2 separate regions of the Homo sapiens genome follow, and region 1 is linked to region 2. Evidence: fine-mapped expression QTL. A gene starts in region 2. The other region holds a variant in brackets. All regions are shown on one strand. Distances are from middle to middle. Region 1 holds the start of LOC284950 (a long non-coding RNA gene). Region 2 holds the start of PTCD3 (pentatricopeptide repeat domain 3).

What was found. PIP is the estimated chance that this variant, and not a neighbour inherited with it, causes the effect.
Region 1: its variant is fine-mapped to the expression of PTCD3 in whole blood (INTERVAL, PIP 0.99).

The regions. Positions count from the first base shown.
Region 1 is chr2:85,798,237-85,815,753 of GRCh38, reverse strand. LOC284950 (a long non-coding RNA gene) reads right to left here and starts at 624. Exons shown (of 3, transcript NR_038888.1): 1 at 399-624. RefSeq lists a silencer at 11,018-11,215. The variant A/G (reference allele first, on the strand shown) is at 10,125.
Region 2 is chr2:86,101,390-86,117,194 of GRCh38, reverse strand. PTCD3 (pentatricopeptide repeat domain 3) reads right to left here and starts at 10,960. Exons shown (of 24, transcript NM_017952.6): 1 at 10,844-10,960; 2 at 8,793-8,845; 3 at 8,659-8,695; 4 at 6,037-6,082; 5 at 597-665; 6 at 36-140. The coding sequence starts at 10,947. POLR1A (RNA polymerase I subunit A) reads left to right here and starts at 11,309. Exons shown (of 34, transcript NM_015425.6): 1 at 11,309-11,495. The coding sequence starts at 11,419. RefSeq lists enhancers at 10,650-10,909, 11,290-11,499, 11,700-11,789.

The sequences.
Region 1 (17,517 bases), 300 kb after region 2:
AGATCACTTTTTATTTTGCCCTATTTATAAACAGAATAACATGATTTGTGGACTGAACATAACAGCTAAGGATAACTAGGTCTCTAATTTGGATCTCTAACCAAATCTCTTGGTTACAGATTTAAAACTGAGGACTGCAGATCTGGCTGTTGCAGAGTCCAGAGGGCCACAGTTGGACCTGCCAGGCCATTTTTATAGTTGTGATGACAATAAGGGGTCCCCAAGTTCATTCTTCTCAGATAGGATTGGCTTTGCAACCCAGGCTCCTGGGCATTTAGCCCCTTCCCCAATTTTCCATAACCTCCTTTTAACTTTCACTGCTTTAGATGGGGAGTGGCATGCCACATTCGTCACAACCAACTCCTTGCCCCAAGTTTCTGCAAATGGATTCAACCAACCTGCTCCCTGTCTGGGCCGTGTCTTGTTGGCTTCAGTTGCAGCGTGCAGGGCACTCCAAGGACACAGCACTTTCCCACGGGCACGTGTGGCTGCCCAGCACAGAGTTTAGAGGGGCAGGAACTTTTCCTGAGATAATCATTTGTCTTTTGTTCTTGACATATTTTCCTTCCCTGTTCAGCCAACCTTTCCTTTCCTGCTTTTATTTTCTAGGATCTGGAGCAATTTAAGGGGATTAGGCTGCGGGTTGGGGAGGGGAGGAAAAGGTTTGAGAAAGGTTTTGAGAGAACTCCATGGCTGGGAGCAGCAGTACCTGCTGAGGTGGGGGCGGGGGAGCAAGACCTCAGATGGCATAGCCAAGCTGTAGGGGGCCTCAGGGGAGCGAGTGGCATGGCCTCAGGCCCAGGCTGCCAAACTGGGCAAGGAGGCAGCACAGACCCCCTGAGGCTTGGACACGAAGCTCTCACAGTGGTGCTGACGCACTGAAGATTTAAACACTACTCCCTCACACCCATTTTCTGGCATCACCTTAGACTCCCTGGCTCTTGCACAGGCCTAGGGAGGAGCAGCACCCACTCCCATCTCCAAAAGCAAGTCAGAATGAAGTTTTCTGCAGCCCAGCCAGAGGCGGAGTCAGATCTAATTTGATTTTAATAGAATAAAGAAGGGTACTGTTTCCAGCATCCCTGAGTCCTGTTATATTTTGCATAAAATGATTCAGTCTGGGGTAGAAGGAAGGGCATTGCAGGATGAGTCTGGCTCTGCCATTTAATAGCTACGGGACCCTGAGCAACTTTCTACACTCCTCCTAGCCTGTCTTCTCATTTGTAAAATGGGAATGAGTTTCCCATCTACCGGGGTCCCTCCTGCTCCTGAGCCCTGGCTGCTTGAAGTGGAGGTTCTGCTCATGCCAGGTGTGAGGATCACCCTCCTCCTGTACCATCGATGCCAGCCCAGCCTGGACAGCAGAGGGCGCTGTCACGCCATGCAGACTGTTCCTGTTCCAAGTCCACCAGCTCTCCCGGCTGTACCCAGCAGCTGATGGTGGCCAGTGTGCATTCTCCCTTATTCACTGGAGCAGTCCAGATGCCCTGACCCTCGATCTGCCAATTTTTAGACACAAGTAACACGCCCCCAAGTTCTCTGGCCCCCTTAGGCTCCTTACTCGTGATCCTCAGCTGCCTTGGCACTGCGCCCTTCTGGAAGCCCCTGGGGTGGCTCACGTGTGGTCCCAAACCAGTCTGCACCCATAGGGCACCACTGCAGCTCTGCCAGATGTCTGGGGTATCCCACATGGCACCCCAGACTCCCAGCAGCCTCCACCTGTATATGCATCCCTCCCCCAAGCGTCAAAGGTGTGAAGTGGTTGGGGCCAGGAATACCCCCACTCTAAGGGGTGGGGAGACTCAACTACGAGTCCTGCAGAGGCCAGACCAGGGGACGCCAGCCTTTCCATCATCAATTCCTCCCTTCTTACTGCTGGGCCAGCTCACTGGGTCATCCTGTCACCCCTCAAGTCTAGCTCCCCACCACAACTGTGACTCCCACTTAAACCAACACTTCAGCTCCCACAGTGTTCCAGGTGCTCTCATACCTCTCCTGTCTCTCAATCCCAAAGTAAAATATACATGATTACCACCATGGGGGAACTGAGGCTCACAGGAATGTTAAGTGATTTGTCCAAGACCTCATGGAACTGCAGTATCAGGACCCACACCCAGATCTCTGGATTCCAAGGGCCATGTTATTTCCATGACACTGTCGTGCCTCTTGGGTGTGGGCACTGGGGGTTTGGGCTGTTTGGGGGAAGTGGGATGGCAGCTCTAGCTGCCCAGCAGAGGTCTGGGAGATCCACTATGTGGTCTCAGGCCTGGCATGGCCCACACTGAGGTTGGCATCATGTGGCTCATGGGCAGGCCTGGAGCCCCTCTGATCCCAGAATGGAAACCCTTTGCAGGCTGCTGGTATAGGGAAGCCCAGCCAGGAGCTCACACACCTGCCGTTACCTGAGGTTTCTGCCATTACCTGAGACAGCATGGGCTCCTGGGAGGCCCTGATGACAGAACAATTAAGGGGGTTGTAGGGGGAAGGGTGGGCAGAGGAGTTACACCCCCACGTGCTTGGCAGCAGACGTCAGGAACACGGGGTGATGCCCACATTGTCTCCTGCCTCCTTATACAAACTGTCTGGGGCTTCTCTTTTTCCTTCATACAAGTCACCAGTGAGGACAATGTCACCAATCACCCAATATTTACCACCAATGAAAATTCGTTTCCACAAATGGGAGACCCTGCTCTGCACAAGAGACTAGACCAGACCTGTAGGGTTTGGGGGATTTTTTGTTTTTGTTTTTTGAGATGGAGGCTTGCTCTGTTGCCCAGGCTGGAGTGCAATGGCATGACCTCGGCTCACTGCAACCTCCGCCTCCCAGTTCAAGCAATTCTCATGCTTCAGCCTCCTGAGTAGCTGGGACTACCGGCGCATGCCACCATGCCTGGCTAATTTTTGTATTTTTAGTAGAGACGGGGTTTCACCATGTTGGCCATGATGGTCTCGAACTCCTGACCTCAGGTGATCCACCCTCCTCAGCCTCCCAAAGTGCTGGGATTACAGGCATGAGCCACTACGTCTGGCCTCAGATCTGTAGGGTTTTGACGAGTGACCAGAATGAGGGAAACAAACATATCACAGACCAGCGTGGCCCAAGTCGAAGGAAGGGAGGCTGAAGGCACTGGTTGGGGGTGGAAGTGTTGCAGCTCAGAGGAGAAGCCAGCCCCACCGGAGGGGTGGCCAGTGAGTGGCCTGATGCACAGGCAGGCAGCCAGCGAGCTTGGGGGTGGGGGAGAGGCTGAGCCAAGGCCGAGAGGTAGGAGGGGGCAGCTCGGGCTCTTGGTGGGCCAAGGTGGGAAGTGCTTGAGGGCACTTGGCAGAGCTGGAACTGGGACAGTGGGATGAGGCCCAGGTGTGGGGGGCTCGGTGCCAGGCTGAGGATGCCATGGACACACAGCTCATCAGCAGCTCTGGCCACCACCAGCTCCTCCTCTGTTACAGTTCAGAGTGTGGCAAATCATCTGCACTATGAAAATGATGGCCTGGGTTCAACTGTTCATTTGTTCAGTTGACTGGCCGGCCAGTCACCAGCTTTGTGACCTTGGGTAGGTCAATGAATTGACCTAGTTTCTGCCCTTAAAATGGGGTTACAGTATTATCCCATGGGGCTGCTGTGAGGATTAAATGAATTGATTTGTAGGCAGCACTTAGCATGTGCCAGGCTCAACATGATGCTATCACTATTAATCCATATAAATACTAACAGCTACCACTTAGGGAGCACCTACTATGTGCCAGGCTCTGAGCTAGTTCCCCACCTACATCATGTCTTTAACCTCCAAGGTAACTTACCATGATCACGCCCATTTTACAGATGAGGAAATAGAGGCCCTTGCCCACAGTACAGTCATAGTGCTGCCAAGTGGGGAGCCGGGTTCCCACCCAGGCCTGCCTAACTCCCAAGCCCAGGCTCTGAGGATCCAGCATCCGACAGCTGCATCTTTCTGCAGGGGAAGGGGCCTGGGCCATGCAGAGTGTGTGGTTTATGGACCACAGGGATTTCTGAACCCAACTTTGGGCGCATGTGTGCCTGGCACGTGGGGGCAGGAGAAAAGCTTAGTTCCTCCCGCCGAGCCTCAGCTCACACACTCCGCAGACCCTCCTGCGCCCACACCCAGGAATCTTGGTTTTAGGCGACACATCGTGATGCCTGCTAAAAGCAGAGCAGGGAAAAGGAGCCCTTAAACAGTCCAAATGTGTCCCTCGCCGCGCCTGATTTTCCCAGAGCCCCGGCGCGCCCAGACAGAAGTTGTGTACACAGGATTTTAGTATTTCCTCTCCGGCTCCAGCCCCAATTTGAGGGCCTGTAAAAGCTTGAATGGCGTCCAGTGCGGCGTGGTTTGCCTAAGCTCGGCTCCCGGCGCTGAGTCAAAGCAGCCCACACAGGGACCGGGGCGCCTGCTAGGGGGGTGGGGGGCGCCTGCGGGGGCGGGGGGAGGCCGGGGGCGCCCACACCCACGTCCAGGCCCAGCCGCCGCCTTCCAGCCGCCGGGGCTGGCCCTGCTGCGGCTGAGCAAACCTGGTGACTCGGGGTACACTCGTGGCGGGAGGCAAGGACGTGGTTGCATGACCCCTTTCCTCCCCCTGCGCCTGGGAACCTCTCCCACTTCATTGGGGTGGGGGCGGGGGGTGCTCCGTGTGGCTCAGAGGCTGCTTCAGATGTCTTCTCTGAGGCTGAGAGGCTCTTCCAGTCCCTGATTTTTAAACATGCCTCCAGCACCCCTCTCCCTGCCAGGAATCATCCAGTACAGTGCCCAGACTGACCTGCTGTGTGAGTCTAGGTAATTCACTCACTCTCTCTGGGTCTCAGTTCCCTCATCTGTAAAACCAGGGCGGGCCTGGGCTCCGTCTCTGGCTCCTGCCAGACCCAGCACCTTGGAGTCTAAGAAGATTAGGAGCCACCTGGGCTGCAGATAAGGTGCCCATGCTCTCTGGAGGGGACAAAGGTTGGTGGGGGTTGGGGGATTTTCTCCAGGGGCTGTGACACCACGACACCCACAACCAGCCAGTAACGGGAGGAGTGTGTTTCAGGGTCCAGCAGATCTAGGGGCAAGTGGCCAGGTGTGAAGGTGACAGCTGGGGAAGCTCTGAGCCCCTCACTCTCAGGAGCCTGGGATCCCTGGCACCCTGAGGCGCAGTGGCCTCTTGTCCACACAACCCATGGGTCAGACAAGGCCTGGGCCTGGCACCCGAGGAGTCACGGTAGGCACATTCGGCCATGCTGCACAGCCTCTGCTCTGCAATTCCCAGATCCAAAAGCTCGGAAAACCAGCCGTGCGTGCATGCGTGTGAGCACGTGTGTAATGTCTAGGGCTAAATCTGACCTGAACAGAACTCATTTGGTGACTTGAAGTGACACAAGATAATTTTAGTCTGTATTTATCTCACTCCTTGGGAGTATTTATACCTTACATTTGTGAATATTAATTACATTAAATGTGTTTGATGACAGGGTCTGCCCCACATCCTGTTGGGGGAGGGAGAGTTACCTAATAAACACCACAACCCTAGACAACTTTTCTAACTCCCCTTTAAAAAAAAATACACATCTTTGAAACTTCCTGGCCCCAAGGGTTTCTGATAAAAAGCTGTGGACCAGTGTAAACGATAAAAGTGACAGAGCCAGAGAAATGTCAGTGGCAGTGATTCAGGTGGTTCTTCATGTATTCCATGCAATGACACTCTGGGGGATGGGATCTGCTGGCCCCTCAGCCCATCGGGAACATGTTGCAGGACTAAGAGTGACTTAGGTGTTTAAATATACGAATGCTTATGATCCCCAAAGCAGATTTCTTTATGGGTGGCTGAAGGGATTTTTTTTTTTTTTTGAGACATGGTCTCAGTCTGTTGTCTAGGTTAGAGTGCAGTGGCACAATTATGGCTCACTGTAGCCTCAAGTTCCCAGGCTCAAGCAATCCTCCCACTTCAGCCTCCCGATGAGCTGGGACAGGCGCACACCACTATGCTCAGCTAATTTTTGTATTTTTTGCAGAAAAGAAGACTCACTATGTTGTCCAGGCTGGTCTCGAACTCCTGAGCTCAAGTGATCCATCCGCCTCTGCCTCCCAAAGTGCTGGGATTACAGGTGTGAGCCACCGTGCCCAGCCAGGATTCTTTTGGTCTCATTTTGTAGTAATTACAGATCCATAGAAAGGTGCAAGGAAATGTACAGGAAGGTTCCATGCACCCTTCACCCAGACTCTGCCAATGTCTTGATAAATTACCATAGGACCATATCAAAACCAGGAAACTTGGTATAGTCCTTAGAATGTATCCGGATTTCACCAGATATATGTGCACTCATGTATGTGTGTATGTGTCTGGGTGTGTGTTGCTCTTTGCAATTTTATTATATGTGTAGCTTTGTGTAATTTGTCTTTGACCCTGTTAACAGGATCTGTTGCAGAGCAGAAGTTTTTCATATAGGATTTTTTAATGAGGCCCAAGTTATCAATTCATGATCCATGTTGAACCAATTTTCTTTTGTGGATCATGCTTTTGGTATCAGGAATAAAAACCCTTTGTCCAGCCCCAGATTCCAAAGATTTGCCCTTATGCTTTTTCAAGTTTTATAGTTTTGTAAAGTCCATTTACGTTTGTGATCCATTTTGAGTTAATTTTTGTATGGGGTATGAGGTTAATTTGAGGTTCATTTTTAGCCAATGGCTATCTCCAGTGGCTGGAGGGATTCTAAGAGCCATTTTAACCACTCTGTCTTTGCTTTAAGAACACTACTTTCAGGTGAAAAAAAGGAGGCCCAGAGAACTAAGACAACTTTCCCAAGGTCACTGTGGTTGTCATGAATGCATTCCCTACTCTCTGTCTTCCAGGCCCGTGGTAAGATCACACTCAGGGCCCCTCTGTGGTAGGGCAGGGCCATGAAACTGGCCCTGGCCAATTTGTTGTGAGCAGAAATTATGTGAGTTTCTCCCAAATCAGGGCATTTAAATGTCATAGTGAGGCTGGACACAGTGGCTCACCCCTGTGATCCCAACAATTTGGGAGGCTGAGGTGGGCGGATCACTTGAGGCCAGGAGTTTGAGACCAGCCTGCCAACATGATGAAACCCCGTTTCTACTAAAAATACAAAAATTAGCTGGGCATGGTGGTGCATGCCTATAATCCCAGCTACTCTGTAAGCTGAGGCAGGAGAATCTCTTGAACATGAGAGACAGATGTTGCAGCGAGCTGAGATCACGTCACTGCACTCCAACCTGGGCCATTGAGTGAATAAGAGACTGTCTCAAAAAATAAATAAATAAATAAATAGTAAGGAAATGCCACAGTAAACCCTCCAGATCTCTTCTTTCCCTCTCTCATAGCAAGCAGCAAGTTAGAAATGGTGGCTGCTCCATCAGCCTGGATCCCAGAGTGGAGAGACATGGAGCAGAGCCCCTGTGAACTGACGATGGACATTCAGAGTGAACAAGAAATACATCTTCGTGTTTAAGCAATTATACTTGTCGGGGCATTTGTTACCACGCATGACTCAGCTTATCACCAAGTTGGATTTTGGAAGAATCCAGGTCCTCCTCGTTCCACGGTAAATGCACTTTGCTAGGAGTTTTCATATGACCTTCCCATCTGTCCTCAAGAGTCCTCATGGCTTACTATCATGTGCCACAAGAAGAGACCAGCAAGATGGGTTAGATGGCTTTCCAGGAGCCTTCTGTGCTACCAGAATACCAGGCTGTAGACAGCCTCTGTTCCCAGGACCTCTGTGCCAGCTCAGCTCAGAAACGGTCAGTAGGGAACTCAGTGATGGTGCTCTCGTCCCACTCTGCTTAGCACTAGCCACTGCCCCCACCCAGGGCCTGGATCTACTTCAGAGGGCCCCTCTGGGATGGACAGGGATGAACTGGGACCCACTGAGGCAGAGGCCTGGAATGGGAGTGGGGAAACACAGTGGGGCTTCATAGTGTCAGGTCCAGAAGGCAGGATGTCTGAATTCGTGCCATGCACCAGGAGTTCCTATGGCAGAAGATACACCATCTCTGGCCATGTTTGGGGACATGCTTCTGCCTATCAATATCTATTTCCCCTTCTTCCTTGTAACAAACCCAATTCATTTGGAATGGAAATGGGCCTGGTCCCACAAAGAGGCTCCACTGAGCATGACAAGCCTGTTCCTCAGTTCCCCAGCCCCCTTGCACCCAGGATAGGGCCATAAGATATAGGTGGAAGCTGGCAGGGGGTGGGGTGCAAATGTCAAGTAAAACTGGTTTCCTGACAAAAGGGTGCAGCTGGTATGGCCCTCTCTTTCCACCTTTCTGCCTCTTGGTTTTCTTTTAAACACAGACACGATACTTAGAGTTGTACCAACCACATTAAGACCATGAGGAGAGGCCATAAGAATCTCAGAGTTGTCGAGTTACCACAGCAAAGTCAGCAACCACCATTTACTGATTTCTTATTATGAGAAAAAGGCACCCCTGTGTGATTAAACTTCTAGAACCAGGTTTCCTGTTACCTGCAGCCAAATGCCTTCCTAACTGGTACAGTGCCTACCTAGCAGGGGAGTTAGAAGAAAGGACTTATTTTACCACCTCCTGGACTTCTCTTTCCTCATCTGGGGCCACATACCCCCCAGATCAATCCTGTCCCTAGAAATTGTCCCCGATCAATTCTGTCCTTGTAGCAGGAGGTCTGATGTAAGCAACCCCACATCCTGGGCCCTGCAATAGCCGCCTTTTGCACCTTCCACATTGCCACCAAAGTGATCTTTCCAAAATCATGGCACCCCTCTGCCAAAAAATTGTATCACTCAAATTCCTTCCCAAGCTTTCAAGGCCCTTCCCATGCTGGATTTGGCTGACCTTTGCAGCTTTCTATCCCTTTACCGCTCACTGGGCACCCCAACTCCCATGACTTCACCTCCTTCACCCTGCATCCACCACAGGCTGAAATGCTTGTTACCTCCTTTGCACACTTTCTGCATACCTTTGTTACAGCAAGTGCCACGATACTTATAATTAATTGTTTATAAATCTTGTCCTTCCAGAGAGTGTGTGCTCTGAGGACAGGGGTCAATCCTTACTCTATTTGTATGTGTGTCAGCTTCTAGCACAGCCAGTACTCAAAAAAAAAAAAAAAAAAACCAGCCTGCTGAATAAATAAAACCCCAGTGCTTTGGTTGTATGTTGAATATTAACCTTGAGCTTCCTCTTTGGGCTCTACATGGAGTTGCTCTTCAGGTAACCTGTGAAGTTTCCCACTATAAAGAAAGGACTTGCTCAGTTCCTTATTAAGCAATACTTATTGAGCAACTACTGTGCACTTGTATCAGTTAGTTATCACTGCATTCATGCTGTGTAAAAAATATTTTTAAAAAATTCCAGTGGCATATGACCATGACCGTTTATTTCCTACTTGTCTGAGGGTTAGCTGGAGGTATTACAATGTGTTATTATTACAAGCCCCACTTTTCAGATGAGGAAACCAGAGATGCAGAGAGGTAGAGTAACAGTCCAATTTTGCACAGTTGATAAGCAGCAAAGCCAGACTTAAAACCCAGGAAGCCTGGCTCAAGTTGGATTCTTAACCATGATGTTGCACTGCCTCTCCATCTTGGAGAGCATCCCACCGCTGTGCATGAATAACTTACTCATTAAAAAAAAATCACAGCCTAATATTTCAATAAATGGATGTTAATATATCATATCATATGTCGTATTTAGCCAGTCTGATATGGTTTGGCTATGTGCCCACCCAAATCTCATCTTGAATTGTAGCTCCCATAATCCCCACGTGTTGTGGGAGGGACCTAGTGGGAAGTAATTGAATCATGGGGGCGAGTTTTTCCCATGCTGCTCTTGTGATAGTGAATAAGTCTCATGAGAACTGATGGTTTTATAAAAGGGCAGTTCCTCTGCACACACTGTCTTGCCTGCCACCATGTAGGAAGTGGCTTTGCCCTGCTTTGCCTTCCGCCATGACTGTGAGGCCTCCTCAGCCATGTGAAACTGTGAGTCCATTAAATCTCTTTTTCTTTACAAATTACCCAGTCTCTGGTATGTCTTTATTAGCAGTGTAAGAACAGACTAACACCACCTCTGTGCATCAATAATTTACTCATTTTTTTAAAACCCACAGCCTAATATTTCAATAAATGGATGTTA[A/G]TATACCATATGTAGCCAGTCCCTACTGATGCATGTTTAACTTTTTCCCAGTCTTTTGCTATTATGCAATGGTGCATGAATAATATGTGCCCCACTCATTCAGCATCTGCAAAGTGTATCTGCAGGAAAAATTCCTAGAAGTGGAATTGCTGAATCAAAGTTATTTGTCTTTATAATGGTAATAGCTTTTGCTGAATTGCTTACCAAAAATCTATGGAGTATCAATGTCTCCACACCCTCTTCCACACCGTGTGTTAGTGAGCTTTTTGATCTTTAACAGCATGACGGATGAAAAATAGTATCTCAGTGTTGTTTTAGCTTGCATGGGTTTTTTTTTTACTATGTATAGATTGAAAAAATGATGCTACCTCATGGGGTTGTTGTGAGGATGAAATGTATTAAGACTATTGACCCATACCAAGTTCTTAGAGCAGTACCCAGAACCCCAGAACATAGTAAGCACTTAATAAATGTTCAGTGCTATTACTATTATATATTATGTGAAAGTGCTGGAAGAATAAAGCACAGGGCAATATGCATAATATACTTACTATCTGTGGGAGAAAATGAAACAAGAATATATATACACACACATACCCATACGTACATACGTATACGTGTATGTATGTACTTGTGTATATATGCATACATAACAGTCCTCAGGAAAGATATGCAAAAGTAGAAAACATTGATGCCTGTAAGGAAGAAAATGGCTGCTGGTGACAAGAGTGAAGAGATTTTTCACCTCATTTCCTTTATTTCATAATTTTTAAATCATATGCAAGAATCATTTATTCTCAAATGGCTGTAGTTCCTGATATCCTCCTGCAGGGGGAGGGGAAGATTCCAGCCCCGTGGTTTTAGCCCCAGTCCCCAGGAAGTGGTTACAGCCCCTCTTGCCACCTTCCTACCCTTGCCTTTTGAGAGTGCCAGATTCAGCCCTGAAGACAGTTCAAAAGAAACAAGGTTTGCACAAGCTGAGGAATTGAAAGGTTGGTGCTTATTCTCCCCTATCTCCCCACCTTCTCCAACCCCTATCAGTGTATCCATGCCCATCAAGGTAGGAGGAGAAAAGCCAGTGCAAAAAGGAGGGAACCTGAAGCCTCTGCCACCTTCCCTGAGGGGTAAGCAGAAAACAGTCCTGGACTTGGGTGCCCTAAGCTTCAGCCTCCCACTTGCCACTGACCTCCTGGGGAGGCAAGAGCCATCACCTCCCTGGGCCTCAGTTTCCTCAGAGTTAAAAGGGTTACTGACACATAGCCTCCATCAGGGCATTTGGATTAAATGAAGTAAGAAATGTGTAGCCACACTGAAAAATACCAAAGCATGATGTTGATGAGGCTTCCAGAATATAAGAGTAGAGTAACAGGCAGTGCTCCGGAGCTGTCACCAGAGAGGGGCGTCTCTCGGTGTCACTGTTGGCACCGCTCCACAGAGCACCTGCTGCTAGCATAGACCTCCAACCTGGGAGGACCTCCTCTCATTCGAGAGAATGAATGAAACACCTAACCACGCACTACCAGATGTCACACAGTCACTGTATAGAGAATGAAGAGAATGATGCAGGAAAAAGAGAAGTCAACTCCACATTTAGTAAGTGTCTGCAGGAATTTTGCCGAATGCATTAGAAACATCAACCTTTGGTGAAATCCACGGATTAAAAACTTACGTGCTCAGCCATTAAGAGGAAGGAAACTCTGACCCATACTACAGCATGGGCGAGTCTTGAAGACATTATGCTAAGTGAGCCAGTCACAGAAAGACAAAGATTGTATGATTCCACTTAGATGAGATATCTAGAATAGGCAAAGTCATAGACACCAGAGGTAGAATAGAGCTGCCATGGGTTACAGAAGGGAAATGGGGAATTATTGTTTGATACCTTCTGAGTTTCAATTTGGGGTGATGAAAAGTTCTGGAGATGGATAGTAGTGATGGTTGTACAACACTGTGAAAGTACTTAATTCCACTGAATTATAAACCCAAAAATGCTTAAAATGTTAAATTTTATGTTATATATATTTTACCACAATAAAAAAATTGTTCCCTCCAAAAAAAAAAGAAGAAAAAAATTCACTAACTTAATGCTCAAAGCAAAATTTGAACAATCACCTCAGCAGATACTGAACTAGTTTGGAAATAAGAGCCCTGAAATAAACACTCAATCCCAAGACTAGCAGTTGTGGGCATGGAGCAGTGTGGAGAGCTGAAGGGAGCAGCAGGGCCTGTCAGAAGAGGGATCCACCAGGTCCAAGCTGATGCAGTCTCCTGGCCATGCTGTTTGGAGTTCCTATCAGTTATTAATGAGGAGCCACTGGGCAGTGAGACTAGAAGCCACTGTGTAATCTTTTTTTTTTTTTTTTTTTTTTTTTTTTTTTTTTTTTTTTTTGCGATGGAGTCTCAGTGTGTCACCCAGGCTAGAGTGCAGTGGCACAATCTCAGCTCACTGCAACCTCTCCCTTCCAGGTTTCAAGCCATTCTCTTGCCTCAGTCCCCCAAGTAGCTGGGATTACAGGCATGCACCACCATGCCTGGCTAATTTTTGTATTTTCAGTAGAGACGGGGTTTCACCAGGTTGCCCAGGCTGGTCTCAAGCTCCTGACCTCAAGCGATCTGCCCACCTCGACCTCCCAAAGTGCTGGGATTACAGACGTGAGCTACTGTGCCCAGCCACCACTGTGGAATCTTTATGGTCTTGTAGATCTAAGTCTGCAAAAGCAATATCACAAAATGTGTATGGTTCTCATGTTACAGTGTGATGTCACTCATGCTAAAACGGATCCTTCTGTTTACTTCATATAACCCTGAGTTTAAGCAAAGGGGAGGACACATCCAGCAGATTGCCTGGGTCTGGCGAACCTCACCATCTCAGTCCATTTGAGCTGCTGTGACATGGTACCATAGGCTGTGTGGCCTCTAAACAACAGAAGTGTATTTCTCAAAGTTCTGGAGTCTGGAAGGCTGAGCTCAGGGTGCCAGCATGGTCAGGTACTGCTGAGGCCTCTCCTGGGTTACAAGCTGCCCTCTTCTTGAGTGGTGTGCTCACACAGTGGAAGAGGGTGTGAGAGGTCCCCAGGGCTCCTATGACAAGGGCACTAATCCCGTTCATGAGGGCTCCACCCTCATGACCTCATCACCTCTGAACAGCCCCACCTCTGAGTACCATCATATCAGGATTAGAATGTCAACATATGAATTAGGTGGGACACAAATATTCCGTGCATAACATGTAGCCATTAAAATAGAGATTCTGCTCTTCTGAGTGGGCGACATCAGGAAAGCCCCAGTCCCATACCTCCTAATAGAATTCTGTCCACAGGAGGCTTGGTTTGATTTGGGTGTGTGACCCATGACCGTCCTCAGGGAGAAATGATGTTATTAAGCAGTGTCCACCTCTGCACTGTTACCATCTGTGTTCCTGAGCGGACAGAGCCTGAGAAGAGAAGGGAGGTTGGGATACAGACACAGCTCAGGGGGAAGAGAGCTGGAGTCAGAAGCAAACTGTGAGTGGTTCCCCAAGGCCGGGAGGAGGGTTCGCTCTTGTTGTTTGCAGAATCAGTCTCCTGCACAGGCAAGGGGAGTGATCACAAACACCTGGGGCCTCTGGGACCTAGAGAAAGCCCGACCACTTGTAGTACCTGCCACCTCACCTGCCAAGACCTGACATACCCCTCAGAGCACGAGTGTCCCATAGCCTGATTAAGGAGAGCAGCATATGTTAAAAGTACTAAGCCACATCTCACTTTGGAGAATGTATTTGTTGGGATAAAATTTGGCTGTCATGACAGAGACCCAAAGCTTCCCAAACATTATTCCCATCACAGCACACAGAGAAAATTGTAATAATTGTGTAGCTCACGGGGGTAAAAGAATAAGGCTGTGTCTTATTTCTTTCAGACTGCTAAAACAAAATACTGTAAATTGGATAGCTTATAAACAGAAATTTATTTCTCACAGTTCTGGAGACTGGGAAGTCCAAGATCAAGACACTGGCAGAGCAGTGTCTGGTGAAGGCCTGCTTTTAGTTCATGGATAGTGCCTTTTTGCTGTGTCCTCATATGGTGGAAAGGGAAAAATCTCTGGTCTTGCTAGTCCCTTATAAGGGCACTAATCCCATTCATAAAAGTTCCACTCTCATGACCTAGTCACCTCCGAAAATCATCACATTGGGAATTAGGTTTCAACATATGAATTTTGGAGAGACACAAACATTCAGTCCATAGCAGGCTGCTTACATGCAGAAGCAACTGGCCCTGAGACAGAGGGGATCAGTAGCTTCATGCACCTGCAACCCATTGACAGCACTCCAGGAAGGCCCAGCATTGGTTGGGATGCTCTGGCTTAATTAATATAGACATTCATGTTCCTCTCACTTAGAAGTCTGAGTTGTTATGCTGACCCTGTCCTATGAAGCCATCAAGGGCCCAGACCCCCTCTATGTTGTTGCTCCTCCATCCCTAGCATGTTGCCCTTATCTGCAAGATCCCAGATGGCACACTGCACATCCACCTTCCATCCAGAGAGAGGGTAAAGGGGAAGGGAAGACCCGCCCATCCTTTTAAGGGCATGTATCAGTTGTCTATTGTTGCAAAACAATTACCCCAAAACTTGGTTGTTTAAAACAATAAACACTTATTATCTCAGTTTCTGTGGGTCAGGAATTCAGAGTTTATAGTCAAGATGTCATCCAGCACCACAGTCACCTGAAGGCTGGTTTGGGGGTTAAGGACTTGCTTTCAAAATGGCTCTTTTACGTGACTGTTGGCAGGAAGCCTCGGTTCTTTGCCACATGGGTCTTCTCTCCATAGGGCTGCTACATTGTCCTCATGACATGGCAGCTGGTTTTCCCCAGAGTGGATGATGCAAGAGACAGAGAGCAAGAAGGAAGCCAACTGCCTCTTCAGTTCAACCTCAGGTGTTCATTGCTTCTACCACGTTCTATGCATTAGAAGCAAGTCACAAAGTGCAGGCTATGCTTAAAGGAAGGGAATTAAGCCTCCACCTAAATGAAAGAAGGACTGTCAAATAATTGATGGCCATATATAAAACTACCTAGCACAGGGCACATCCAGGCAGTGTTGCACATACCTCTTCTGCTTGCACCCGTTGACTAGAACTCAGTCCCACAGCCATACAGAGCCCCATGGGAAGCTGAGATACATTGTCTTCATTGTAGTGGCTGTCCACACAACTAGAAATTGGTGGTCTATTACTATGGGAGAGAAATGGGAAATTAATAACATTTCTGCCTCAGAGGAAACAAAAACACAAATATGCTAGGAGGAAAAAAAAAGAATCCTGTGGAATATAATTTACATTCTAGGAGAAGAAAACATGTTTTTTCGTCATTGACATTCTTGAAAATGCTCATGACATATAGTTGAGTGAAAAATGCAGGTTGAATAGAGCACGATGCCATTTATGACAATGTGCATATGTATATGTCAGTGAGTGTGGAGGCAGAGAGGTGCCTGGAAGGATGTTCACCAACACAGTCACTGTGGTTATCTCCAGGTGATTAGATTATTGGTGATTTCCTCATATATTTCTATGTTATCTTTCTATATCATTTACTGTTTCTCAAAAAAAAAAAACCAGAAAAAGCTATAAAAATATTTCTTCCTACTCTTTCTAATCAACCCCCCACGGCCCCCACCCCAAGCTGGTCTAGAGGAAGAAGACTGATGAGGAATTCCTGGCGCTGTGCAGTGAGTCCGGCTGGTGAACCTGTCAGCTCTGAGTCATGCCAAGTGCAGGGCAGGCAGGTGGGGCGGGGCCAGGGGCCTGGTTAGACAGTCAGGATGTGCCAGTGAACACAGCATCAGGGCACGAAGTCACAGCTGGGACCATGTGAGTGGAGAGGGGTTACGCCAAAAATCATGAAAGCAGAGGTCAGAGGCTGCAGAGTCGCCCAAATGGTGAGAGTGGCCAAGGTGTGGTGTTGGAGGGGATGTTCCAGGGTCCAGGGTCCAGGGTCCACATGTTGACCCTGAAAGTCAATGATGAAAAAACATGTGGACTTTGCATCAGGGCCAAGCATCAGGCTGAGGACAACGTTCCCACTTCCAACAAGCCCCCAGGGCTGGGAGGAGAAGAGAGTCCAGGAAGCTATGCTCTATATAAGAGATGGGAGCCAGTGCAGGTTGAAAAGACCCCAGGTGCCTCCCCCACCCCCAGGGCACAGATAGGTAGGAGCAGCCAACTGGATTGCAGCCCCAACATAGCCACGAGGGCTGCCAGGGAGCCTGTTGCTGCCCCAGCAAGAGAGTTGGCTGCCAGGTATGACTGCGCTGTCCCCTGCTCAGGCAAGGACGGTGACTGGGTTTAATGTCGCCTGCCAGCTCTGATCTGTGACAGTAGCTCTCTGGACTATGGGGCTGAGAAAGATTCTAAGACCAAGCTGGAGCTTAGGAGGAACTGCTGAAGTGATTAATTAGTGATGTCTGCCAAGCCACAAAAGGAGGGTATTTTAGCCCAAGTGCTACCATTCCAGCAGGCACTCTTTTTCCACTAGGGGTTCACCCTCACCTCTTCTTCCCCCACTTGTCTGCCTTCCATCGTAAGGAAAACTTCCATTGTAAGGAATATTACCCACAATCCTATGTTTTCATTCTGGCCATTCACTGCTAGGGTTTTCTGCATACAGAGAGCCTTTTTATGTCATTCTCATCAGAAAGTACATCCTAACTGTAAATGCTTTTCCACTTGGTATTACAGTACAAGGGTTTTCCTATGATTGTTTTTTAATATCCTTTTTAAAAAAGTAACACAAGATCGTTGTAGAAAGTACAGAGTACCAGCAATGAAAAAAAACCTTAAAACCTTTCATTCTAAAACCCATAGAGGACCCCAGAGCCTGCCAGGCAGTAGCGGACCAGGAGGATCCTCATACTAAGCGATAGCGCTGGGAATGGCCATAAGTATCACAATTACCTGGGATGCTTTAAAAAAAAAATGCAGATTCCGTCTTACACACATGTTAGAAAACGTCAGTCCTCCCCCACCCACCTCCCCTGTAAAAACAAAAATAGGCAAAGACTATAATAAACAAGACAATTCACAGAAACAGAAATTCAAGTGGTCAATAAATATGAACAATGTTCTTCTCTATTAGGCAGGAAAATGAAAATTAAAGCAATGAGATGCCTTCCCTGCTTCCCCAGAAGACTGGCAAGAACTCAAGTGTGATAACGTCCAGCACAGGCAGAGAAATGGGCATGAATTGCTTCAACCTCTTGGGAAAGTAATCTAGAGTTGTTTATTAAAATTAAAAATACTCTATACATACACTGGACAGAATAACCACACTTCCATGATCTAGTCTACAGAAGTCAAACCACCAGGACATAAAGATACATGTACAAGTACATTTAATGAAGCATTCATCCATTTG
Region 2 (15,805 bases):
AGTATTATGTAAATAATGTAACTACCTCTCCTTACCGGTATATGAGGTTCAGCTATGTCCTTCTGAAAATATTTGGGGTATGAATTAATAATAAACTTGGCCACATTCTCCCCGGATTTCTTTGCCAGTAAAAATGAACGCTATATAAAGAAAAAGATTTAAATACATGTAATTTAAACTCAAGCAAGATTATAGTTACACTCTCAGCAAGAATTTCTCCCCCCTCACAAAAAAAAACAAATGCAACAACACGCAGAATCCCAATTAGAAATTATAGACTATCCCACCTTTTCTACTGTGATATAATTTCAGTTAGCATCTTATACACAGCTTGAAATATATAAAAAGCAAGCCATTTAAACTGAGTGGGTCACTCCAGTGTGAAAAAGCCCTAAGTATTAGAAACCAAAACCAAAAATCCTTTCCCCATTGACGATATGTACATCTTTTTGAAGAAAGTAGTAAAGGATTCACATAGTCTATCAATTTCTCAGCATTTGTAAACCTTTCCCAGGTTATTACAACTAAATTATTTATGTACTGTTGTACGCAAACCAGAGAGATAAAACACTAGAAAATTATATGAAAATACTCACAGATTCCAAAGATGATGCTGGCATAAGGTAAGGATCATCTTGAAACACATAAGGCACAGCTGTGGTATCCTGTGGAAAAGACATAATACAATTTCTATATTTATTTTGAAGACAGCTCACTGTAACTTTTAGCTCCTGGACTCAAGGGATTCTCCTGCCTCAGCCTCCCAAGTAGCCTAGGCTACAGGTGTGTGCCACCACAGCTGGCCATTTCACAAAATTTTTTGCAGAGAGGGTGTCTTGCTGTGTCACCCAAGCTGGTCTCAAACTCCTGGCCTCAAGCAGTTCTCTCACTTCTGCCTTACAAAGGGCTAGGATTATAGACGTGAGCCACTGTATCCAGCCCACAAGTCTTTCTAGCTAAATTTTTAAGAGGACCTTGTGAGTTTTGATAAACAAAAATTCCGTAAGTTGTAATTATGTATGTAACCTAAATGCGCAAACGTGTGTGGGCATATATACATGTATATATAGAGAAAAAAGACAAAAGACAAACACCTGCACTGTACTCTCAGCTCTACAAGACTTGCCTTTAATTATGCAAGGCAAGCAATGGCTTAAGCCTCCCTCCCCATGGCTGATTTTAATATTTAAGTTTGCTACCACTGGGGACTGTTTTAAACTCTAGGTAAGAATCATCTGAATTAACTAGTCCTAACAGCAGAATCCCAGAATAGGATTTCCTCCAAAGCAAGGTCACTATCCACCCACGCTCAACTTCACCAAGAGTCCCTCCTCCAAATGGAAGATATCACCGTGCCCTCTGAGGAATGAACAACAGAACCTTCTCCCACGTCCTGTTACCCATTAAAATTGCTCCCTAAACCTGAGCATAATCAACTCTCCAATACCACCAGGGGCCCCACTGAGAAATGCCCCAGAATTGCTTTCTTTATTCTCTTCTGTGTCTGAGTGCCTTACTTGGGCCTTTATTCCAAAGCAAAAACTTATCCTATATCCTTAATGCTGTTTTACTGACCTGGACTCCTCAGGGAGGGGGCACAGAAGCTTCCCTGCAGCTCTCAACGGAAAGCTGCTCATACCTGGAACCTGGAGGCAGTGTTTTATTTTGGACCTAGCTTTCTGCTACCCCTTTCAAAAACCCCTTTCCCTTGAGCCTCACCTTAGCAGCCCTGTTGTGAACTTCAGTTTTTATTTGAATTATACTAATGGAAAGCCAATGTTGAATTCTTAAGAGTGATATGATCCAGGGTCACTACAGCTGCTGAACTGAGAGCAGTGTGCAGGGAGGTGCAGTGGGAGACGACAGAGACTGCTGCAATTAATCCAGACTTGTAAGACGACAATAACCAAGGTGACTGGTAGTGATATCAGGCATCTAAAATTTTGATATTTTGCAGAAAAGAGTTAACAGACCTGAAACCATTATCCTTAGGAAGGTCTGCGTCCAAGGCTGGCCCTTGGCTGCCATCTGGGAACCTGGATATTGGAAGGGTTCTCACCATTCCTAGAACTGCTAAGAATGGTTCACTGTGCCTAACCTGTTTGTACAACGTGTTTTGTGCCAAACACCTGCTTCCCTTCTGGGAGTATGGAAACTTGGTATAATATATGCCAGCCAGTGGGTGGTCTACATGGCCAGCCTCCCCTAAAAACTCTGGGCACTGGGTCTCTAATGAGCTTTGGTAGACACTTTGCATGTGTTGTCACAAGTCACTGATGGAGGAATTAAGCATGTCCTGTGTTGAATCTTCTGGAGAGGTCTTTTGGAAGCTTGTGACTGATTTCTTTTGGTCTTTATCCAATGAGCCTTTTCTCTTTGCTGACTTTGCTTTGTATCTTCTTGCTGTCATAACTCTTAGCCTGGGAGTGGTCACGGAGACCTCACACACACGTATCTTTTGAAGGGATAAACAAAGGCTTTGCTAACAATTCCCAGGATTTTGGCCTGAGCAGCTATAAGAATGGAGTTGCCATTAATGAGATGGCAAAGAAATATGTGAGGAATGTTTGGAGGGAATGGGGTTTGGTTTTGGATATGCTAAGCTCTTTATCACACTCTCAAGTGGAAAGCTTTCCCATTCTCCACATAGCTCTCTTTTCTAAAATGTCTGCTTAGAATTCCTTTACCCCCATCCTGGCTAACACAGTGAAACTCCGTCTCTACTAAAAATACAAAAATTAGCCGGGCGTGGGGGTGGGGGCGCCTGTAGTCCCAGCTACTCAGGAGGCTGAGGCAGGAGAATGGCGTGAGCCCAGGAGGCAGAGCTTGCAGTGAGCTGAGATTGCGCCACTGCACTCCAGCCTGGGTGACAGAGGGAGACTCCGTCTCTTTAAAAAAAAAAAAAGAAAGAAAAAAAAGAATTCCTTTCTCAGTCTTGGCGATACAACCCCTTCTCAGTGCTACCTCAGTCTTCCCCTCTAGAACTACACAATATCTGTGTCTAATTCTATATCCAGCACAGTGCTTGATAAGCATCATAAGGGCACAAAATATTGTTGCTGAATGAATGGATAAACGAATAACTCTTGGATTTTAAGGGCCAGATAAGTCACAATTCTACACACAATTCTATAACTTCTTTGATTTGAAAGTGGCCCTGGGCCATTCTCATTGAAATGTTGAGAATATCTCGGAGGTCCATTTCTATGTTTACATTTCAGGTGCCTATTTATGGATAAGTGAGCTACTGAAAATCTCAATGCTTTGCAAGTAGGGAGATGTAGTAAAGTCCTTTTTCAGAAACTGGTAGAGTACACCAGTGCACATTAGACCCAACACTATCTTTAGTAGCTCCATCTTTATTTTATATTTAATTTTTTTGTGTGTGGCGGGGGGGACAGGGTCTCACTCTGTGGAGTACAGTGGTGCGATCCTGGCTCACCGCAACCTCCACCTCCACCTCCCAGGATCAAGTGAGCCTCACCTCAGCCTCCCAAGTAGCTGGGACTACAGGCGCATACTACCACGCTCAGCTAATTTTTGTGTTTTTTTGTAGAGACAGGGTTTCACCATGTTGCCCAGACTGATCTCAAAGTCCCGAGCTCACAGGATCCACCCGCCTTGACCTCCCAAACTGCTGGGATTACAGGCATGAGCCACTATGTCCAGCCTAGTAGTTCCATTTTTAGATGTAGTTTAATATCCACAATAGAAGAACAATTCTGCGTACTTGTAATAATCGACTTAAGGAGGATCAATATCCATACAGATACTGTGGCAGAAAAAAAGACTTAATTATTTTAGACTTTTCCCCACAGACGAAATTAAAAGTTTTTGGTTAATAAAAAATACAACCAAGCAGAAAGTTCCATTTCTGATGCATTTACCAAAGTTTCAGTGTATCTACCAGACTACAAACTCTACTCTTGAGTTGCCAACAGAGAAAATTTCATGTCAATGAAATCAACAATACAGTAGTAGCAGTAACAAAATACAATGTACCAAGAATTTCCTTTGTCCCAGACTCTATCCTAAATCTTACGTATACTTAATTCATTTGTTAATAATTCCACTGCAACCTTGAGGTTTGGTGCTATAATTAACCCCCAATTTATAAGTCAGGAAACAGAAGTATCAAGAGGTAAAGTAACTTCCCTAAGATCATAAAGCTAGTTGCTTGGCTATTAAAACAAACCAGTAGGCTCCAGGACCCAGATTATTAATCATTACATGATTGTCAGCATGACAGGTACATTATTTCTCCAAGTTGGTATACTACAGCCAAATCGTCCCCTAAGAACATACATTTCAACAAGCCCTTCCAGGGATTAAAGATCACTGGTATGGTAGAAAAACACTGCATTTCGAGATAAAAGGCGTGAAATTAAGCCTTTAATTAAGGTTTTAACATCCTAACCAGCCACTGGCCACTTTCAAAACCTTAGCTTCCTCCTTTGCCAAATAAAGGGATTTGATAATTTTATTTTAAATTTTTTTTTTTTTTTTTTTTTTTGAGACAGAGTCTCACTAACTCACCCAGGCTGGAATGCAGTGGCAGGACCTTGGCTCACTGCAACTTCTGCCTCCCAGGTTCAAGAGATTCTCTTGCCTCAGCCTCCTGAATAGGTAGGACTACAGGTGCCACCATGCCTCGTAATTTTTGTTTTTGTTGTTTTGGTAGAGACAGGGTTTCACCATGTTCACCATGCTGGTATCGAACTCCTGACCTCAAGCAATCAGCCTCCCTCGGTCTCCCAAAGTGATGGGATTAGTGATGGGATTACAGATGTGAGCCACTGCTCCTGGCCAATAATTTTATTCTTAAAAAAAAAAAAAAAAGGCCGGGCACTGTGGCTCACATCTGTAATCCCAGCACTTTGGGAGGCCAAGGCGGGTGGATCAGGAGGTCAGGAGATGGAGACCATCCTGGTGAGCACAGCGAAACCCCGTCTCTACTAAAAATACAAAAAAATAGCCAGGCGTGGCGGCGGGCGCCTGTAGTCCCAGCTACTCGGGAGGCTGAGACAGGAGAATGGCATGAACCTGGGAGGCAGAGCTTGCAGTGAGCCGGGACTGTGCCACTGCACTTCAGCCTGGGCGACACAGCAAGACTCCGTCTCAAAAAATAAATTAAAAAAAAAAAAAAAAAAAAGTTTGGCGCAGTGGCTCACACCTGTAATCCCAGCACTTTGGGAGGCCAAGGCAAGTGGATCACCTGAGGTCAGGAGTTCGAGACCAGCCTGACCAACATGGAGAAACCCCGTCTCTACTTAAAATACAAAATTAGTTGGGCGTGGTGGCACATGCCTGTAATCCCAGCTACTCAGGAGGCTGAGGCAGAAGAATTGCTTGAACCCAGGAGGTGGAGGTTGCGGTGAGCCGAGATCGCGCCATTGCACTGCAGCCTAAGGCAACAAGAGCAAAACTCTGTCTCAAACAAAACAAAACAAACAAACAAACAAAAAACAGATGGGGGTCTTGCTACATTGCCCAAGCTGGTTTTGAACTCCTGATGTCAAGTGGTCTTCCTACTTTGGCCTCCAAAAGTGTTGGGATCACATTCATGAGCCACCTGGCTCAGCTGGATTAGACAATTTTTTTTTTTTTGAGACAGAGTCTCGCTCTTTCGCCCAGGCTGGAGTGCAGTGGCGCGATCTCTCCTCACTGCAAGCTCTGCCTCCTGGGTTCACGCCATTCTCCTGCCTCAGCCTCCCAAGTAGCTGGGATTACAGGTGCCTGCCACCACGCCTGGCTAATTTTTTATATTTTCAGTAGAGACGGGGTTTCACTGTGTTAGCCAGGATGGTCTCGATCTCCTGACCTTGTGATCCACCTGCCTCGGCCTCCCAAAGTGCTGGGATTACAGGCGTGAGCCACCGCGCCCGGCCTAGACAATTTTAAAGAAACTTTCTAGACGCACAACAGTTTAATTCTGAGTAATGACGAGGTATGAGTATTAAATGTGTTATTAGCCGAGTTAAAAAGTGTGTTATTAGCCAAGTTTTAGGTTAAAAAAAAACACAAAATCCTACTTACCCTGTTTACTGTGGATGCAAGTGCCTGAAGAACGGCTACTTTATCCCTAAAAATAAGAACCACAAGTTAATCCTCATCAGGGCTCTTCATAGCCACAAACCGAACAAGTGATTCTACTCTCAGTGTACTGGCCAATAACATAGTGCAGATCTCATCTGAAGCTGGTTATGTCACAAGGTCACTAGAATAAATTAGAAATTAAGAAAACTGCTGGTTCTTTCCCCTAGTTGGTACATGTTCCTCTCTTTGCCTGTCCTCTCTGGCCTGGTGCATAATGCCATAACCCAGGGCTAGTGATTTCCATCCCGCCCTCATAAAACTATCTGGCCTACTTCCTCTACCCACTTTCCTATGGATTCTTACTGCAGCTTTCGGGACTACTGTTGCCTTTACTATCCTAATTGGTAGCTCTTGATTCAGTTATAGGAGAATAAACCACAGGCTTCACTCTGGACCTATTGCATCAAAGCCTCCCAAGATCCATGGAGGACTGTCACACACACTCTTACTGAATTCCCAGATAATTCTGATGCAACCTCCTGGTTTAGAACCTCTCAACCATATATAACGTTATGGTAAGAATTGCAGGCCAGCTGTCCACTGCACCTCTGAGTAGAGACCTTTACTGAACTATTAGAAAAGGCTTCACTGGAATAAATGACAGACAAGATAATTTGATCTCAAATATATTTGTGCTCCTATGTTAGATTTAATGTGTTTCCTTTCCAAAAGGGAATTATACCAAGAGTATTTTTCTAAATAAAGTTTAACATAACATTCTTAAGACTATAAGTCATCTGAGAAAAACAAAAGTACAGGAAATTTTATATTTCATCAAAACTAATTCCCTGATGTACATAATATCCACTAAATTTTCTATCCACGTTTAGAAGTCACATTTATGTAATTTCAGCAAGTGTGATAACGACACATTCTCTCATCTGTCAGCATTCCTTCAGCAGATCTTTTATTGCCCTATTTAAGTCTTATCAAGTTAGCAAACTTTCCTAACATATTGAACAAATGGCAGTGAAAAAATGATGACATTCAGATTACTCACTAATTCTCTTTCTTTAAAGGGTTACTTTAAAAGGTATCATACATTATCTTAAAAAAATAAACTAGAACATTACACGTTAACCTAAAGTGTCTGGTGTCATCTTGTGACCCCTCTCCACGATGAATTTGGTATTTGTATTTCCAGAACTTTTAAAGGTATTTTCACACATAAACATCTCCCTAAAAAACGTATACACACTGTCATTCTGCATGTGTCTACATAAGTTTGGCTGCACTATCCATGTTATTAAATATAGAGCTAATTAATTCCTTTCAATGTAAAAAGTTATTGTATGATAACCTTTTAAAATTATCCATTCACTTTTCAATGGGCATTCAGGCTGTTTCAACCTGTTACTATTCCCAAGTAATAAAGAACAGTCTTGTCCATGTATATATGCAAATGTTCCTCCAAAGTGGCTAACCAGTAAGGTACGCACATTTCCAATTCTGATTCTGCCAAATTTCCCTCCAAAGAGCTGTTCCAATTTACTGTCCCATAAACAAACGTATTTCTTCAAATCCTCTCTCTGCCAATACGGTAAGTTTTAATTTGCACTTCTTTTATGATCCCAGTTACCTATGCATTGACATCACTGGGCTCCCTGGCCTCCCTAAAATAATCACACAGTTCAGATTAATAAAGTTCTTAAAAAAGTCTTTTTAAATGAACCCAAGTCTTTTTTTTTTTTTGAGATGGAGTCTTGCTCTGTCGCCCAGGCTGGAGTGCAGTGGCGCGACCTCGGCTCACTGCAAGCTCCGTCTCCCGGGTTCACGCCATTCTCCTGCCTCAGCCTCCCGAGTAGCTGGGACTACAGGCGACCCCCCACCACATCCGGCTAATTTTTTTGTATTTTTAGTAGAGACGGGGTTTCACCGTGTTAGCCAGGATGGTCTCAATCTCCTGACCTCATCATCCGCCCGCCTCGGCCTCCCAAAGTGCTGGGATTACAGGCGTAAGCCACCGCGCCTGGCGAACCCGAGTCTTTAGGTCACATAATTTTAAGACCTAGCTTTTTGAGGGGCCACTAAATGCGTTCAATAGGACTACACTGTAACAAGCACTTTTGTGAAGTTTTAATTCCTGCATATTCAACAAATGTTGAATAAATGAGATGAGGCAATTTGTTCAAGGATATATCCAGTGAATAAAAAAGCTAAATTTTGCTGTCCACACCATTTACTTTATTTTTACCTCATTAGAGATAATAAAGACAGTAACTGTCTGCTCTTGAATCATATGAGAGAACTTCCTTGAAAAAAATTATTCTAATGATGATGTTCATGTATAACCATGTATTATTAACCACGTAAATAGTAACCCACACTAATTCAAAATCTCTTTCAATTGTTCTTTTAAGTAAATCTCATTGCTCATTCACTCACTATTCTCCACCTTTCCATTTTTTGTCCTTTAAACTCCTAGCTTCTCCCCGCTCAGCTACTCTCTTCAAGAATGCTCTCCTATTGCTCTTCCTGTCACTGTCTCCTTACCTAACCCTTACACTTCTCTCATAGTAAGCACTCAACCATTTGCTGAATGAACACTGATAGAATACTTACCAAGTTTTCTTTTTTGGAATTACTACTTCTTCAATCCCTAATGTAAAAAAGAAAACATGAATCAGTTTCCTAGTACTACAATGGAATCCAACGTGTTGATATAAAAATAGAATTCAATATATTTTAAAATATACCTGTTACATCAGTTCCTTCAACCTTTGAGAGGGTTGCACTACCAGAATAAAATCTGCAAAAAAACAAAAGCCTTAAATCTAATAGTCATTAATGAAGTACCCAGCTCACCTCCACCTATGTGTACTTTGAGCCCAAATTCTCCAATTATCACGGATTAAACTGGATAACTCATGTCAATGAACGCTGAGAAGACAGTCTGTACACATGTTCAATATCATTAAGGAATGGATACAAGATATGGACAAGACTGTCAAAACTTTTTTTTTTTTTTTTTTAGAGACAGGGTCTTGCTCCATTGCCTAGCCTTTAGTGAAGTAGTGCAATTATAGCTCACTGAACCCTTGAACTCCTGGGCTCAAGTGACCCTCCTGCTTCAGCCTCCTGAGTAACTAGGACTACAGGCATATGCCACCATGCCCGGCTAGACAAAAGTTTTGGAAGCAAGCAATCTCATTACATAAATGGCAGAGAGGGAGGAAAGTTTTTAATAGCACTTGAACAATCTGGTTTGAAATGAAGAACTTTCAACTTCAGGAACCCAAAACACTATGATGTTTAAAAGAACAATTCAGTGAGCTCTTGCTTCTATACAGATACTGCCCTGATCAGAAAGGACTACCTCACTTAAAGCAATTACAACATAGGGAAGATGACCCATGGCTTCTCATTCCACTTCTTTCAACAATCAAGAATGTACCAAATACATAAGGCCTGATTTAGACTTGGAATTGCTGATATTTTCTATTTTCAGAGGTTCAATATGAAATCCTTTTTAAACCAAAATATAGAATCATTGGCCCATGACTGAGTTTTTAAGTGTTCTGTTTAAGTGTTCTGATCACACTAAAAACACAGTCAACACACCACAGATAATGTGACGGTTAGTATTATCTTGTGTTTCCCCTTACTAAATGGCATCAGTAACATTCAGAAAATTGTCAAGATGTGATTGCACAGACAGATACTTCCTCCAGTAGTATCTGGTTTCAGGTATCATTTAAAACAAGAATACCCCTCTACGTTAAGGACATTTCAGAAAGAGATCAACTCTTTCAAGTTTCTGAGATCAACTCTTTCAAGTCACACTATTTGTTTCTCATGACCTTAAAACAGAGATCACAGTTATTTTGAGAACGGATGCTGAGGAAGAGATTCTGCTTCAGGCAAAGAAAATGAGTAGAAAAATGCTAACGATGGCTACCAGGAAACGGAGGACTGGCATTGAATGGCAGCACAAAGGTTTCTGCAGTATCAGATGGAGTGGTTTCTCTTTCTTGAGGGGAACTAAGGGAGAGTACATATAAAAACATATTGTAAATTACATACCCCACTTATACCTCACAAACTTTTCGGATGGTTATTACCAACTCTAGTCTGCAGATGAGGAAATCTGTCTATTATCATCCAATTAAGTGAATGGCAAACACTAAACCTAAAATTAGGCTTTTAGCAAGTTTTCACTACAAATTACTGCCTCTCATATTCCCACAATGCCACTGTTTGTACTGAGTGAAAAAAAAATTACACAGATAGGTCATACATGTTCCAAGCTATAACTATCACAGATCAAAAGGGCATAGTCAGATCTTTTAGACTTTTCTGCTTTTACGAAAACCTGATAACTTCTTTAGCCAAAGTCCCCACGGTGGCGACCAGAGACTGCCTTTTATTTGGGAAGATCTTGTACGTTCTCCTCGCTCCTCCTGATTGGGTTAAAATGAGTAATGGCGGATAATTTTTAATTTGGGGTAGTGTTGCTAATAGCCACACTCACTGGAACGCAAGCTTCATGAGAGCAGGGTCCTAGCTTTGCGGATGGTGTTAACTACAGAATATTGCAAGCAACCAATAAGTATTTCTCTAATGAATAAATGCGTTGCGAATCCTATTTCAAAGGGCCACCTCCGCGTACCTGGTCTTAAGGGCACGCGACCGTTAAGGGCGCGCATGAGCAAACCATTTCATCGTGCCTACTTCCACAGCCAGCTGGGAAACATAGGACTAAGGTGACTCCGCGGTCTTCTTCGCGGATACCCTAAGCGTCTCTTACCTGCAGCTGCGTGCCTGTTCACACAAACCCGCCCGCCGACCCGTCAGCGGCTGGCCAAGCCTGCTGCGGAGGCCCAGCCAGCGAACAGCAGATACAACCGCCATCTTTGATTTCTCTGCAGAGCATGTTGGGAAAGCGTGCCTCGACCTTCAGGAAGGTGGGGCGCAGTGGGCGGGGAGCAGGGAACAGCTCCGCTATTGGCTGAAGCGGAAGAAGACGAAAGCAATCATAAAATGGGAGGTTGCAAGCTCATGGTTTGAAAGACTTCGTCACGGAAGCTAAAAGCTCTATACACCCGATTTGCCTCGGAGGAATTTTCCTAAATGATTATTTTGATGTCTTATATATCTTTGATTGTTTTCAAAACAAAAGAGCGAGCAGAGAGTCGTACAACTATTTGTTCCCCCCCCATGTAGAAGTGATCTCATCCACGTAAATGTCGTTCCTGCGACCGCTTCCGCGCGCAAGCGCACGTTGAATCGCGTGGTGACTCCGGGCTTGAGGTTGAATTAAGAATAGTCAGGTGGTGAGTGGAACGTCTCTTGGGGTGTCGGAATTCAAAACGGACCTGGAGGATGTTGATCTCCAAGAACATGCCCTGGCGGCGGCTGCAGGGCATTTCCTTCGGGATGTATTCGGCTGAAGAGCTCAAGTAAGGAGTTGGTCGGGTAGCGTGCCCAGCCTGGATCTTGAGGTCGGCGCCCTAAACTACGATTCCCAGAAGCGCTTTTGCCCAGTCTATCCTCTTGAGTCCAGGCTTGTCTGGCGCTTGTCCTGCTGGGAGCCGTAGTTCTGGGAACGTTCCTGGGCCGGCGTGGACTGCCTGGATAAGAGGCCGGTGGTGCTGGGGGAAAGAGTTTGCGCTGAGGTAGGGGAATATAAGGGTGGGGAGGGTCCTGGTCTGCAGCGTTATCATCTGCCAGTCTCCTCGTTAACTAACAAGCATTTGTGGAATTAACCATAGTGTACCTGACATGGTTAATTAGGCACGTAGTAAGTTTCCTCTTGTTTGTAAAATGATTGTCCTTCAAGTGTCAGTTCAGGCGTTAACTTCTCTTTGCTAGGACCCTGCTATATTCTCGGTCTGGTTGTTAAATCAAGGGAACTCTCTTTAGTCTTCATTTTGATCAAGGTAGCATTTGACATTCTCCAATGCACTCTCTTGAAACTTTCCTTTCTTCCAGAACCTTATTTGTCTTCAAGTTCTCCTATTTTTATGACAAATACTTCTACCTCCCTCTCTTCCTCTATCGATCTATAACCTCACAAACATTTATTGAGCATCCAGTTTTTTCCAGGCACCAAGCTAGGCGTTAATGACACATTGGTGAGCAAGGTCTGTACCTCATTTTACTCCTTAAATGTTGATGTTCTTCAAGATTCTATTCTAGTAATGTTTTCTTCATGGTAAATATTGTCCCTAGACAATCTCACCACTTTCATGATTTATAGTCTCAAATTTAAATCCCCAACGCAAATTTATTTCCCTGATTTTCAGACCCATTTGTTCAGCTGTCTGTACATCTTTAATTGAATTTCACACAGAGATCTTAAATGCATATCAAAAACTCAACATGGCCTAAATGCATATCAGAAACTCAACATGGCCGGGCACGGTGGCTCACGCCTGTAATCCCAGCACTTTGGGAGGCCGAGGCCGGCGGATCACGAGGTCGGGAGATCGAGACCATCCCTGGCCAACATGGTGAAACCCCGTCTCTACTAAAAATACAAAAATTAGCTGGGCGTGGTGGCGGGCACCTGTAGTCCCAGTTACTCGGGAGGCTGAGGCAGGAGAATCGCTTGAACCCAGGAGGCGGAGGTTGCAGTGAGCCGAGATTGTGCCACTGCACTCCAGCCTGGCGACAGAGCAATACTCTGTCTCAAAAAAAAAAAAAAAAAAACTCAACACGGCATCCCTCTTCAAAGGGAGGGGTTACTTACCCCTCCAAAATGGTGTACGTAGTGCAAAATAGTCACTAGAAACTGGAAAATTATTCTAGATCTCTCCTGACATATAACTTATTTATTGGGCTCTTACTTTGTGTCACCTACATGTCTATTTGTTCTTAGTCTCCTTTTTCTCCCAATTGCTACTGTGTTGCCTCTGGCCCTTATCTCATATTTGAATTGTCTTTTCCTTCCACCCTCCCCTTACACCTCTCAAGTGCATGCTCCACACTGCTGTCAAAATTATTCTTGCAAAGTGCAAATGTAGTCATGCTACTGTCACCCTTAAAACCCTCCAAATGTTCTCCATTTCCCTCAGATAAAGTATATTTTCTTAGCATAGCCTGCAAAGTCTCCCATGATCAGACCAATGCTGATTTTAGCTATAACATCATCCCTTCTTCAGCCCTATTAAACCACCTGCATATTCCAGAAACCGCCATCATATTTCAACATCTGGGCCTTTCTTTAAGCTATTCCCTCTGCATGCAGTGTCCTTTCAGCCAAAAGGAGGTACTTCCCTCTGTCCCCTACCCAACATACACACCTGAAAGCTCAGTTCACCTCCCTTGTTTTGTGAGGTCATTTTGCACATGATACAGTTGTCTGTCATGGTGCTTTAGTGACTTTTTGTGCTTATGTATATTTGTCTTCCTCCACTATCCTTGAGCTTCTTATATGTGTCACTCTTGTCTTTTATCCTCAAGTCTGAATAAATGGATGAATAAACTCCTGAGCCACAGCTCTGGTATCATTGGTAACAGTGTGCTAGCCCAGAAATTCCAATTATATCATCACTGCCATAAGTGGATACGATTTCATCCAAAAGCAGAAGTGTTTTAAGTTGCCTGAATTTTTAAAAAGATAATTGTGGAGTTTTCAAACAAGTTTAGAGTTGAGACATTTCAATAATACTGCCACCTTTTATTGTGCCAGGTTCTAATAGCTTCCCATCTCACTCAGAGTAAAAACCAAGTCTTTACAAATGGCCTGGAGGGGTCATTTCAGTCTCCTGTTACCTCTCTGATCTCACCTCTATTCTGGCTACCCTGACCTCCTTGCTGCATCCAGAGCACCACGGGCACACATCCACCTCAGGACCTTTGCACTCCCTGCTTCTTCCTCCTGTAAAACCCTCTGCCCAGGTGACTGTATGGCCTGCTCCCTCAACTCCTTCAGCCTTTGCCCAAGTTCCTCCTTAGTGGGCTTCTAGGACCACTTGCCTACTCTGCTCTTCCCTTTCCCTGCATTATTTTTCGTCATAGCCCTTTCTGCCGTCTAACAGACTATACATTTTGTGTCTGTTCCCGTTCCTCCAATAGAATGTAAGGCCTGTAAGCATAGCAGTTCTTGTCTGTTTCCTTAGCACTTAACACTGTCTGGCACACAGTGAGCACTCTGGGTATTTGTTGAGTGTATGAATAGATGGATAGAGGAGCTAGCTGCTCAGTGCTTGGCACTTTCAGTCCTTAACGACACCCATTCTCAGTTCTTAACAACACCATTTGTGGTGGCACCTCCAGTAAAAAATTCAGGCCCAGAGAACAAAATGTCTCTCTAGGAAGTGGCAAAGGTCATCTTCAAACCTAAGTCTATTGATCTCAAACTCTACTGACTGGTGGAATCCTTGCTAGTTGCCCCTACTCTTCATCCCACTCCTGTAATGGTGGGAGGGACTTTCTCCTCTACAAAGAGAGAGGAACTTTGTTTGACACTGTATTTTCTGTATGTTATCTTCTAATCATCCCAATAGAGCTGCTGTGATGCCCAGACTTCAGGTGAGAAAAAAATTAGGTAGTTATCAAAGGATACAGTCAGCAGAGTGAAAGGGCAACCCATGGAATGGGGGAAAATATTTGTAAATTATATATCTGATGAGAGATTGATATCTAGAACATAAAAAGAACTCCTACAACTCAACAACAACACAAAATTCAATTTTAAAATGGACAAAGGACTTAAACAGACATTTTTCCAAAGAAGACATACAGATGGCCAGTGAGTATGTGAAAAGATGTTGAACATCACCAATTTTAGGGAAATGCAAATAAAAAGCTCCTCAAATCCAGTAGGGTGCTACTATCAGAAAAACAGAAAGTAGTAAGTGTTGGCAAGGGTGTGGAGAAAGTGGAAGCTTTTTGTACACCATTAGTGTGAATGTAAAATGGTGCAACCACTATGGAAAACAGTAGGGTGGATTCTCAAAAAACTAAAGACAAAATTACCATGTGATCCAGCAATTCTACTTCTGGATGTGTATCCAAGGAATTGAAAGTAGGGTCTCAAAGAGATATTTGTATACCTATGTTCATAGCAGCATTATTCACAATAGTGAAAAAGTGGAAACTACCCAAGTGTCTATCAATGGATGGGTTGATACATAAAATGTGGTATATACATGCAATGGGATATTGTTCAGCCCTAAAAAAGGAAAAAAGTTCAACACATCCTATAACATGGATGAACCTTGAGGGCACGGTGCTAAGTGAAATAAGCCAGTCACAAAAGGACAAGTACGGTGTGATTCCACTTAATATAAGGTACCTAGAGTAGTCAGATTAATCAAAACAGAAAGTAAAATGATGGTAGCAGAGGAGATGAAGAATTACTGTATAATGGGTACAGGGTTTCAATTTTACAAGATGAAAAAGGGTTCTGCAGATGGAGAGTGGTGATGGTAGCACAATGCAAATGTACTTAATACCACTGAACTGTACTAATTGAAACAGTTATGATGAATTTATATATATTTTATTACAGTTTCAAAAATTAAGATTAAAGAACAAAAGGTAAGTAATTTGTTCAATGTTACCCAGTTCAGGGTTGCAGGTGGACTCTAGATTTGTGGGAAGAGACCACACGCACAACTTTTGAGTTAGATCAAGTTTCTCATGAAATTAGCTTACTGGCAGCAAGGTGACCATATAGACAAGAGCCACAGCAGCAGATCTGCCTCCCTGTCGCCTTGGCCCTTAGAGTGACACTGGCCATGCAACATAGAATCTTCTAGAG